3 linked regions of the Homo sapiens genome follow. The protein of the gene in region 1 binds, or shares a complex with, the protein of each later gene. Each region holds a gene or a part of one and is shown on either strand. Other genes may lie near its edges.

Region 1 (3,740 bases):
ACCAGCCTGGGCAACATGGTGAAACCCCGTGTCTACTGAAAATACAAAAATTAGCTGGGCATGGTGTCGGTGCCTGTGGTCCCAGCTACTCAGGAGGCTGAGGCAGGAGAATCGCTTGAACCTGGGAGGCGGAGGTTGTAGTGAGCCAAGATCGTACCACTGTATTCCAGCCTGGGCGACAGAGTGAGACTCCGTCTCAAAAAATAATAATAATAATAATAATAATATAAATAAATAAATAAAAAGGCTTGATTTAAATTTACAAACCAACCTTCCCATCTCTTGTGGCCACAGTTCTTGGAGCCCTGCATTCTGGGTGGGCTGGGAGGCCCCTTGCGTGTGCACCCCAGCCCCGGGTTGAGAGGCCACTGTGTGCCTGTGTGTGCAACAGCCTCCGTCCAGCCTTGCACCCTGGCCTCACCTATGGGGCCCTGCAGCCCTTCCCCCTCCCCGTCCCAGCAGCTCCCCGCACCCGGGGAGGAGAGGCGCGGCCCGGCGCGCCGTGGGACCCCGTCTCAGAAAGGCCACACTTCCTCCCTGTAGGCGAGGAGGATGGCCGAGACCAGTCCAGGTTGGAGACCCAGGTGTGGGAGGCGCACAACCCACTCACAGACAAGCAGATCGACCAGTTCCTGGTGGTGGCCCGGTGAGTCCTGCTCCTGGGCAAGGCCAGCAGGGGTGGTGCCTGGAGCTTCTGTTCTCCCTTCCCTGTGGTGGGTGTTGGGGACGTGACAGTCTTGGATCCCATATCCCAACAAGAAGCCCATGCGCTGCAGCCCTGAGACCCCCGGTAGCAGTTCCCAGAGAGGCTCGGGAGTGCTGGGTCCAGGCCCTTCATTAAATAGAAGGGCGGCCCTTCTGGGGGGCAGGCCTGTGTGCCTGCCCATGTGTCCCTAATGGGGCTTTCCCAGGATGGGCCAGAGGTGCTTTCCCACTCCTGGGCCACTGGGAGCAAGTGGGCTGGGCCTGGTCATGGAGCAGAGCAGCTGCAGCCCGGGCAGACCCCTGGGGCAGGGCGAAGGCCGAGGCCCAGGAGAGGACCATGCACCTTCCCTGCCAGCAGCCTGGGAGGTGGAGAAAACCCCAAAAGAAGCCCCAAGGCGGCTGCCAATCTATCGGGATGCCCTCAGTTAGACGCACACGGGTTCTGGGGTGGGTGCCGGGCCCTACTCCGCAGCCTGGGGCCCAGGACACGAGGAGTCCTCGCCACCTGCGGGCTGCTCCCTGCGATGCTCATGCAGTCTGTCCCTGGTCCCTGGCGCCTGGGGAGCTGTGTGCCTGGGGGGAGTCCGCGCTGCCCGTGGCCCCTGGTCCCTGGTCCCTGGGGAGCTGTGTGCCTGGGGGGAGTCCGTGCTGCCCATGGCCCCTGGTCCCTGGCACCTGGGGAGCTGTGTGCCTGGGGGGAGTCCGCGCTGCCCGTGGCCCCTGGTCCCTGGTCCCTAGGGAGCTGTGTGCCTGGGGGGAGTCCGTGCTGCCCATGGCCCCTGGTCCCTGGCGCCTGGGGAGCTGTGTGCCTGGGGGCAGTCCGTGCTGCCCATGGCCCCTGGTCCCTGGTCCCTGGGGAGCTGTGTGCCTGGGGGGAGTCCGTGCTGCCCGTGGCCCCTGGTCCCTGGTCCCTGGGGAGCTGTGTGCCTGGGGGGAGTCCGTGCTGCCCATGGCCCCTGGTCCCTGGCGCCTGGGGAGCTGTGTGCCTGGGGGGAGTCCGTGCTGCCCATGGCCCCTGGTCCCTGGTCCCTGGGGAGCTGTGTGCCTGGGGGGAGTCCGTGCTGCCCGTGGCCCCTGGTCCCTGGCGCCTGGGGAGCTGTGTGCCTGGGGGCAGTCCGTGCTGCCCATGGCCCCTGGTCCCTGGCACCTGGGGAGCTGTGTGCCTGGGGGGAGTCCGCGCTGCCCGTGGCCCCTGGTCCCTGGTCCCTGGGGAGCTGTGTGCCTGGGGGGAGTCCGTGCTGCCCATGGCCCCTGGTCCCTGGCGCCTGGGGAGCTGTGTGCCTGGGGGCAGTCCGTGCTGCCCATGGCCCCTGGTCCCTGGTCCCTGGGGAGCTGTGTGCCTGGGGGGAGTCCGTGCTGCCCGTGGCCCCTGGTCCCTGGTCCCTGGGGAGCTGTGTGCCTGGGGGGAGTCCGTGCTGCCCATGGCCCCTGGTCCCTGGCGCCTGGGGAGCTGTGTGCCTGGGGGGAGTCCGTGCTGCCCGTGGCCCCTGGTCCCTGGCGCCTGGGGAGCTGTGTGCCTGGGGGAAGTCCGTGCTGCCCATGGCCCCTGGTCCCTGGCACCTGGGGAGCTGTGTGCCTGGGGGAAGTCCGTGCTGCCCATGGCCCCTGGTCCCTGGCACCTGGGGAGCGGTGTGCGTGGGGGAAGTCCGTGCTGCCCATGGCCCCTGGTCCCTGGCACCTGGGGAGCTGTGTGCCTGGGGGAAGTCCGTGCTGCCCATGGCCCCTGGTCCCTGGCACCTGGGGAGTGGTGTGCCTGGGGGAAGTCCGTGCTGCCCATGGCCCCTGGTCCCTGGCACCTGGGGAGTGGTGTGCCTTGGGGGAGTCCGTGCTGCCCGTGGCCGCTGGTCCCTGGCGCCTGGGGAGCGGTGTGCCTGTGGGGAGTCCCTGCTTGGCCGACACTGTGGTCAGCGCATCTCCTTTCCCCAGCTCTGTGGGCACCTTCGCACGGGCCCTGGACTGCAGCAGCTCCGTCCGACAGCCCAGCCTGCACATGAGCGCCGCAGCTGCCTCCCGAGACATCACCCTGGTAAGTGGGCCCAGGGCGGGACAGGTGAGACCTGGGGTGGCCCATGGCCCAGAGTGGCTGCGCCCTTCTTCCTACCAGGGCCCAGCACCTGCCCCAGGTATTCAGGACCCCTGCAGAGGTGCTGTCCCACCTGGACTGGCCTTTCCTATCCACCCCAAACTCGGCCAGACTGTGCTGAGGGTGCAGGGAGGGTTGTGCTGCTGGGCCTGCAGTAGGGGATCCTTGAGGTACTGAGGGAGGGGGTACCGTGCCACAGGTGCAGGAAAAGCCACCTTGGCCCGGGTGACCCTGCTGTCTCCTGCCGCAGTTCCACGCCATGGATACTCTCCACAAGAACATCTACGACATCTCCAAGGCCATCTCGGCGCTGGTGCCGCAGGGCGGGCCCGTGCTCTGCAGGGACGAGATGGAGGAGTGGTCTGCATCAGAGGCCAACCTTTTCGAGGAAGCCCTGGAAAAATATGGGAAGGATTTCACGGACATTCAGCAAGATTTTGTGAGTACCGTGGGTGGCGATGGGGGAGTGGCTGGCCATGCCCATCTCCAGGTAGGCTGCGGGGGTGTGGGCTCCACATCCCACTCTGCCCTGAGGGAGCCTGTCCTGCACCCTGATTCCCTGTGCGGAGCTGCATGAGTTCTGTCTCAGCTGCGCTCGGCCGCCATAGTCCTTCCTGTCACACTGGTTCAGCAGACAGGCATGGGGGCGCTGGTGGGGCCTGGGCATAGAGAGCCATGCTCCTGCCACCATTGCGTGATGAGGATAAGGGTTGGCCCAGGTGACGGAGGCCAGGGTATCCTCACGGAGACTTTCCCTTCCTTGCTGCCCCCTCCAGCCCCAGGCTTGGTTTTGCTTTGTTTTTGACTAAGCTGAACCTCTTGACTCCTCATGTCCTTGTTTTCTGTCTCACGTGAGTTTAGCCCAGCAGCAGGCCTAGAGAGTCTTCATGGCGTGGGGTCTCCCTTCCCTGTACCTCCACCTCAGGACCCCCACCCTCCAACCGTCAGCCCT
Region 2 (3,740 bases), on another chromosome or scaffold:
CTGGGGGGTGCAACAGTAGCTAAGAAAGCAGGTCCTGCAGTCAGAAAGCATGGGGTTCAAATCCCAGCTCCACCCCGTGGCTGTGTGATTCTGGCGACTTAACCTTGCTGTGCCTATTCTCACATCAGTAAAACAGAGGTGAAAGTAAGACGCCTCCCTCCCAGGGTAGGCAGTGCTCAGTACAGCCAGCTGCTGTTACAAACGCGGGGGAAATGTGGACATACTCCCACACCTCGGGCGTCCCTCGTCCTCAGAACCCTCTTGCTGGTATCAAGCACTAACCCAGCATGAGGGTCCCGACGCCCCAGGGGTGTGAACACGTATGCATGAGTGTGCCGGCATGCATGGGACGGCCCCTCTAGCAGGTCAGGCAGATCTCCAGCACTGGGAACCCTGGGCCCTTCCTTGTGCCCCTGCTGTGCCCACATGTGGTTCTGCACGGCAGCCCCAAAGCAAGGGCCCTGGCACCCTGCGCTGCACCCATTTTACAGGGCAAAGAAGCTGACGTGGCCCGGCCCCAGCGATGGGCAGGGTGGCCGCCTGCAGGCACACACCTATGGTTCAGGATTCGGTGAATCATCATCCACTCTGGCTTGATGCCATAGCGGTAGAAGCGCTCCTCCATCTTGGCATAGAGGGGGTCCTTGTTCTTCCTCTTCTCGCTCTTGCCGTCTTCATCCCCAGAGCCGTAGTCAAAGGGGGGCGGCTCATCCATGTCGTTCTTTCTTTGGTAGTTGCGATACATCACCGTGTGGTACAGCTCCAGCTGCTCATGGAGCGGCACAAAGTCACAGAAGGGAGATGGGCCATGGTCCCCTGCATCTCCCTACCCAGCTCCTCTAGCCCCAGCCCAGGTCCCAGGCAGGACAATCCTCCCGCTCAGCACCACCCCAACTCCCAACAGCACCCCTCAGTCAGAGGCGCTTCAGCCCCTTCCCGCCAGCCCAGGAGGGTCCAGGGCTCACCAGGTCCCGGGCCTTAGCACAGCCACCCTCCCGGGCACTCACCTGTAGCTCCTTCACCCAGGAGCAATGCCAGTAGGACAGCCCTGCCCACTTGACAAAGAACTCTCTCTCAGGGATGCCCTCCAGGGGCTTAGGTGGAGGGAGGCTGGGCTCCACGTCAGGCCCCGGCAGCCCCACCATGAAGGGGGCAGGGGGCTCCGTCCACCTCCAGTGTAGAATCCGCTGGACTTTGCCCTTCAGTGGGGGGCACTGTGGACAGAGAAGGGTCCCCAAGGTGGGGCTCAGCTGCAGGGCCCCACCCTGAGGCTCCCATGACAGCAGGCTGCCATGCAGGCTCCCTCCCATCAGTGCCACTGCCCCCAAGTCAGAACAGTACCACGGTGACGCCATGACATCCACCCCGTCCCCAGGAGCCGCATGGGTCATGCACACAGGAGATGGGCAGTGGGGGTCTGTGAGACCACGTGGCCCTTTCACTCAATGGTGAACTTATCGGCACCCAGAATATCTGAGCCAGCGTAGGTGAGACTGCCATGTGCATAGGACAGAGGGGGAAACTGAGGCCCACTCGGCAAGGGACAGCAGAGCAGGGAGCAGAACATGAGATTCTGGACTTCCCCTACCTTAGGTCTTCCCATTGCCCCCTGAAAAGAGGTCACATCACTGTGTGATCCCCAAGCACTCAGGGAGCATGAGCCCTGTGCTGGAGCCCAGGGACACGGCAGCCCCATCCACCATCCCTCACCCGGGGCAGGGCTGCACCCAGGCACCGTGCGTCTAGGCTGGGACAATGAGGCCCCATCTCTGGCAGCCCACAGACACACTGCAGGGGCCCTGACAGATGCTAGGGTGACAGTGAGCTGCTGGCTGGCAAAGGCAAGAAATACAACAGCCACAAACCACACCACTCGGGCCCTGAGATGGGTGGGAGCAGCCTTGGCCCTCCAAGGAGGCGGTGCTGTCTGACTGGACAGGGTCGGGGGTGACTGATTCAGGGAGACAGCTCTGGTGGGGATAGCAGGTCCCAGCTTTGCTACTACCTGTCCTCGGAAACTCATCCAAGCCTCCAGAGCCTGCTTTCCCATCTGTAAAATGGCCCACCCCTTCCTCCACCTACCAGATCTGTGGTGCCACATCACACCTGAAGGCATTCTGGAGGTGCAAGGTACACCACACAGCCAGCCTTCCTTTGGCCTTGGTGACAGCAAAGGCCGAGAGGCAGAGGAGGAGGAGGAGGACATGGGAGGCAGGAAAGGCTCCTCCACTGGCTCTTGGGGGAGTGGAAGAGGGGACCCTTCCTACCCAGGCCATGGACCCTCCTACCCCCATCCCAGCCCCTCAGGGAAGAAGCTGAGAGGAACCCCACTCCTGCCCCCCTCCCATCCCCAGGGCCTTCCATCAATCCTAGGAAAGCACAGAAGGCTGCACCCCTCAAAAGGGTCCTCCCCTGGCCCCTACACAGACACAGACAAGTATGCGCACGGATGCACGCACACACATACACACGCACAATGCACACAGGACGGCCCAGGGCTAAAGGAGGCACAGCCCAGGACCTGAGGGGTGGAGGATCTGGCACCACAGGGGGCAGGACAGACAGCTCAGAGCAAGGGGCCTTCCGATGTCTACTGTGACTGGGGGGTGACGGATGGGGGGTGCCCCTCTTCCTGTAGAAACTGAGGCTCCCGCCCTAGGAGCCTCCTGCCCTAGAAGCCTCCTGCCCTCTCCCTATCCCCAGCCTTGGAACAGGAGCCAGGTCTGGGGTGGCTCCAGGAACCTGAATTTGAGTGGATAGTTCTGCCCTTGTGTGGCCTTAGGCAGGTCACTCTGCTTCCCTGAGCATCAGTTTTCTCATCTAAAAAGGGAGTAACATGCCTGGTGCCAGAATACTCAGTAATGTTAAAGGACACTATGATGGATGTGGAGCCCTTGCAGAGCACGTGGTCACTGAACAGTGGTCGCGGTGTTGGCATGATCACCACACCTGTCTGCCTTTCCCTAACACTCATGCCTCCCGTCTCTAGGGGAGTCAGACGCGGAGAAGGGCGCGAGGAAGCTATTGTGGACGGGGTCTCGAGCAGCGCGGGCGAAGCTTTGCGGGATCGGCTACCGAGGCGGGGCAGGAGCCGGCAGGGGCGGGGCCTTTTGAGGAGGGCAGGCCTTCCCCTGGGGGCGGGGCCTGTTCCTGGGGTGGGGCGGGGCGTCCGGCGCGGGGCGGGCGGAACACTCACAGTACAGCGCGGGCAGAGCCATTCACCGTTTGGGATCTCGGGCAGCGGCGGGTTGAGGCAATGCAGGTGGTAGGAGGAGGGGCAGGCGTCGCAGCAGAGCAGCTCGCCCCCGTCCTTGCACACGCGGCAGAACTCCATGTGGTCGTCCTCCTCCTCCTCGCAGCCGCCCTCCTCCTCTTCATCGTCGTCGTCCTTCGGCTCCCACTGGATCCCCTCCTTCTCCTGGGGGAGGAGGCCAGGTGGAGGCACCCTGGGCGGGGTCCCCGCTCCACCAGGCCCGACTCCCTCCCTCCCCTACAGCATCTCCCCGCATTCTGCCCCCAAATGAGGGCACAGGGGTGGGGGAGCCAGGCGTGGCCCCGCCCCCAGCCCGGGGCTCTGCCAAGGCTTACACAGTGGGGGCAGCTCCACTTGCCCTCGGGAGCCTTCTCCAGCTCTGGGTCCAGGCATACGAGATGGTAGGCCCTCGGGCAGGTGTCGCACAGGATGATCTCCCCACCCTGCTGGCACACCTCACAGTAATCCTGGTGGTCTGTCTCATAGC
Region 3 (3,740 bases), on another chromosome or scaffold:
CAGGGCAGCGGGGCCGGGCTTACCGCGCTTCAGCCTCTCCATGGCACTCTTGCTCCCTGCGTACGTGGGTCTGATCTCCTTCCCCAGCTCTTCAATGATGGCCAGCAGCTCCGCGTATTTGCTTTGGGGCACCTGGCTGTTCCCAGTTCCCTAGAATCAGAAAGAAATGGGTTCAGCAAAATCAGCCGGGCGTGGTGGTGCGTGCCTGTAGTCCCAGTTACTCAGGAGGCTGAGGCAGGAGAACTGCTTGGACCCAGGAGGTGGAAGTTGCAGTGAGCCAAGATCACTCCACTGCACTCCAGCCTGGGCAACAGAGCGAGACTCCATCTCGGGGGAAAAAAAAAAAAAAGGGTTCAGCAGCCTGACCCCAAGGCCACAGGCAGGTGGGTGGAGAGGGCCCCGGGCCGGTCAGGATAGGGAACGCAGCCCAGCCTCAGACTTCTGGGGCAGCCACCTCAGCTGGGCCAAGGCACGTCCCATTCTAGGGGACAACTACAAGTTAGGGAGATGGTCCTCACCCTCCTATCCTCACACACTCAGGGAGGCCACCCAGTCGTCTCCAGGAAGCAACTTTATTATCTCCAATGAACAAAACAGGGGAAACAGCTCATTTTGGCACAAAAGAGTCCAAACAGCATTTCCCAGGATGCAGATGGATGGGAGGGCACATCCCAGGTGCCAAGCCTCCAAGCCAGTGGGGAGACAAGAGGCCACACCTGGGCCACCAGGACCACAGCGATCCGCCATGGCCCAGCCAGAGCCTGGAATGCATTCCCTTCTCTCATCCTCCCACCAACAGGGCCCAACCCCCAGAAAACCTTTCCTCCCACCACCACTGGGAGCCCCACAGCAAGCACCCGGATCAGCGAGGCTGGGCTTCCGGCAAGCCCACAAGCCCGCAAGCCCACAAGCCCAGGCTACCTCCCCTTGGCCACCTCCTCCCATAGACACGCCAGCTCCCTGGGCGAGGTCCTTGCCTCCCCCCTCCTCCACCACCGCCTCTGTCCCCTGGCCTCGCGCTCTGTCCTGTCCTCGTCCTGCTCCGGCTGCTCTGCCTCCCCACGGCACTGCCTCCAGGCCTCACGGGCCTCCCGCCTGTCCTGGCGCCGCCGTCGCATGGCCAGAACGTGGCACTGCCAACTCCCGGCTGCCCCTCTGCCTGGCCTCCCACAGCCACCGCTTCTTCAGCCGGTCCCGCTCACAGGCCCACACCTGCTTCTCCTCCTGGGGCAGGGCAGCCTGGTGGGGCATGGCCGGGGAGCCGCCCACTTGGCGAGGAACAGGCTCCATAGCGACCTCAGAACACTGGTGCTGGGGCCCAGCCAGGGAGAGCATCTTCCCGCTGGGACCTTCCCCGGGGCGGCTCATCCCTTGGAGATGTAGGGTGCAGCTGAGATGGTGGCGGCCCCATTCCTGCTGTTCGCCAGCCTGGGCTGGGGGTACTAGGATCACCCTTGGGCTGATGAGGAGCCCGGGTCTTGGGCAGTTACCAAGTGGGGGGTCACAGTCTGGAAAGTGGTGGAACCAGGGAGCGGCCTCGCCCAGGCCACACTCTCAAATACTGGCCCTCGACAAAAGGCAGCTGGGCTCTCAAGACAGGGCCACCTCCTCTCTGCTGGGCCCGCGCCCGTGGAGAGCAAGTGGGAACTGACCCTATCTTCTGTCCCAGCTTGGAGAGCCAGCATCAAGGTCAGGCCTCACTTGCCCAAGAAAGAGGAGTGAGGAGGCCCACTGGAGGAACGCGTGGGGTGGGAGCCTCAGCACAGCTTGGGCTGCTGCCCCTTCCTGGTGCTCTCCTGTCCCCTCCACCTCACACGTCCCCGCGAAGCACAGTCCCCAGTGCCCTCCACTCTGATGTGTTCTGAGCAGGAGCGCAGCCAGGGCCTTGGGCTGAGAAAGCTCCGTCCCATCCTTTCTGCTCCTTCGTCTCTTCCACCAACTTCTCTCCTCTGATGGTGGGAAGCATGTCTCCCCCTGGCCCTCCCACCATGCCATCACCCCCATTGACATACCTGGGTGTAGCCTAGGGACGGTGGCCCGTAGTCACTGAGCAGCTGGCGGTACTGTGAAGACGTTGCCATGCTGGTGGAAGGCGAGTGGACACTCCCAGCTGTGGGGTGGGGAGAGAGAGGCCAGGAGTCAGCTCAGCCAGTTGTACCAAGGCAAGGACTCCGGGTCCTGCAACAGCCCTTGCCCAGGACCCACACCACCAACTGTAGCAGGATGGAGAACCCTGCTCTCCACCTCCGGTTTGACCAGCATATAAGATGGATAATGAAATGTAGCTACAAGGCACCTGACCATCCCCAGCTCTGCAGCAGCCGCTGGTCCTCACAGAGCTCCATCCCATCCAACCAGAACCTTCCAAGCAGCAGGGCTGCTCCCAAAGATAAAATTATTGCCACTCCTGGCCTGAACTCTGCCCATCCCCTCTCCCTGTGTCCTGGTCCCCAGAGGCTGAGAACCTAGAGGCCACATCACACCACAGCGCCACATAGGCTGGTCGAAACCAGGCTGAGCTTCCAAGCCTTTTTGCTTCTATGCGCTCAAATCTCTGCTGTGCTCAATGACAGGGAAGACAGGAAGGCCTTGGAGTATTTGAGACCCAACCCTGGCTGGAGACAGGCACGCTGGACATCAAATCAGAAATCTAGAGAACACCATGGCCTCTGTGTGCCCCAGATAAAGCCCCTCAACCCCTCTGTGCCTGTCTCCCCCTCCCCAAAGAGGGGACCAGACTCTTAGCAGTCTATGCCCCAAGGGCTCTGTATCCCAAGACAGGAGGGTTGAGGCCCCACATATGGGATGCAACATTGGGGCCTGTCCAGAGCTGCAGTCAGTGACCAAGCAGGGCCCAGCCCAGAACGCAGCCTCCTGGATCTGGCAGGGGAGTCCGTGGCTAGGAGCACGCGGCCCCGCAATGGCGTCCCAGTGGCCATTAGCGGGTAAAGGATATCCTGCAGAATGACAAACAGCGGTAACCATGGAGAATTTACCTAGTCCTCCTCGGCAGCTGCCCGCCTGCCGCCCCCAGAGCCACACGGTCTCTCTCTCACACACACAGTGGGCGCCGCAGACTTGGCCTCGGGGACAGACAGCTGGTGCCAGGCTGGCCAAACCCACCAGCTGCTCGCTTGGTGTGGGTGAGGGGAGGGGCAGAGGAGGAAGGAAGTTCAGGGCCTCAAGCTGGGGGAGCCGGGAGGAGCACTGGAGAACCCTGGCTCCAGGCCCCTCGATTTAGAGAAATGGACCTGAAGGGGTGGCCCCAGGGCACACAGCATAGAGGAGACCAAAGCAGGGAGCCAGCTACCCCGGCACCTGCCCCTCTCTCCGAGAACGGGGACCGTTCCGAGCTGTCTCCTGAGTCTCAGGCCAGCCCTGGATGCTGCCACTGCAGCCCAGGGTTATGCTCCAGCTTGGGCTGGAACTGCAAACGTGGACTTGGATCCTGAACTGGGCAGAGCACCGTGCCACTCCGAGCCTCAGTTTCCACGCCTCCCACGTGGGGATGATGAGACACATGCGGATGATGAGACACGTGCGCTATAGGGGCGGGTTGCTTGGGAGGGGGACGCACAACGCCCACGATATCTGGCACGTCCATGGCCACTGCAGGAATTGGGCAGGGTGATGTCCCCCAGAGCCCCCTAACTACATCAGCCAAACCCCAGTTTCCTGAGCTTCTGATGTGGCAGCAAGCATGGCATGGCGAACACAGGCTCTGCCGGCACAGACCTGGG

The links.
Region 2: MTA1 (region 1) and CHD5 share a complex: the UniProt entries of both Homo sapiens proteins name them as parts of the nucleosome remodeling and deacetylase (NuRD) repressor complex.
Region 3: MTA1 (region 1) and CDK2AP1 share a complex: the UniProt entries of both Homo sapiens proteins name them as parts of the nucleosome remodeling and deacetylase (NuRD) repressor complex.

The regions. Positions count from the first base shown.
Region 1 is NC_000014.9:105,457,727-105,461,466, forward strand, and holds part of MTA1 (metastasis-associated protein MTA1), read left to right. Parts: intron 1-543; coding exon 544-646; intron 647-2,631; coding exon 2,632-2,731; intron 2,732-3,038; coding exon 3,039-3,227; intron 3,228-3,740. UniProt on the Homo sapiens protein: Transcriptional coregulator which can act as both a transcriptional corepressor and coactivator. Acts as a component of the histone deacetylase NuRD complex which participates in the remodeling of chromatin.
Region 2 is NC_000001.11:6,145,658-6,149,397, forward strand, and holds part of CHD5 (chromodomain-helicase-DNA-binding protein 5), read right to left. Parts: coding exon 3,589-3,740; intron 3,419-3,588; coding exon 3,197-3,418; intron 1,215-3,196; coding exon 1,008-1,214; intron 767-1,007; coding exon 555-766; intron 1-554. UniProt on the Homo sapiens protein: ATP-dependent chromatin-remodeling factor that binds DNA through histones and regulates gene transcription. May specifically recognize and bind trimethylated 'Lys-27' (H3K27me3) and non-methylated 'Lys-4' of histone H3.
Region 3 is NC_000012.12:123,265,173-123,268,912, forward strand, and holds part of CDK2AP1 (cyclin-dependent kinase 2-associated protein 1), read right to left. Parts: intron 3,146-3,740; exon of another isoform or gene 2,997-3,145; intron 2,111-2,996; coding exon 2,013-2,110; intron 151-2,012; coding exon 24-150; intron 1-23. UniProt on the Homo sapiens protein: Inhibitor of cyclin-dependent kinase CDK2. Also acts as a component of the histone deacetylase NuRD complex which participates in the remodeling of chromatin.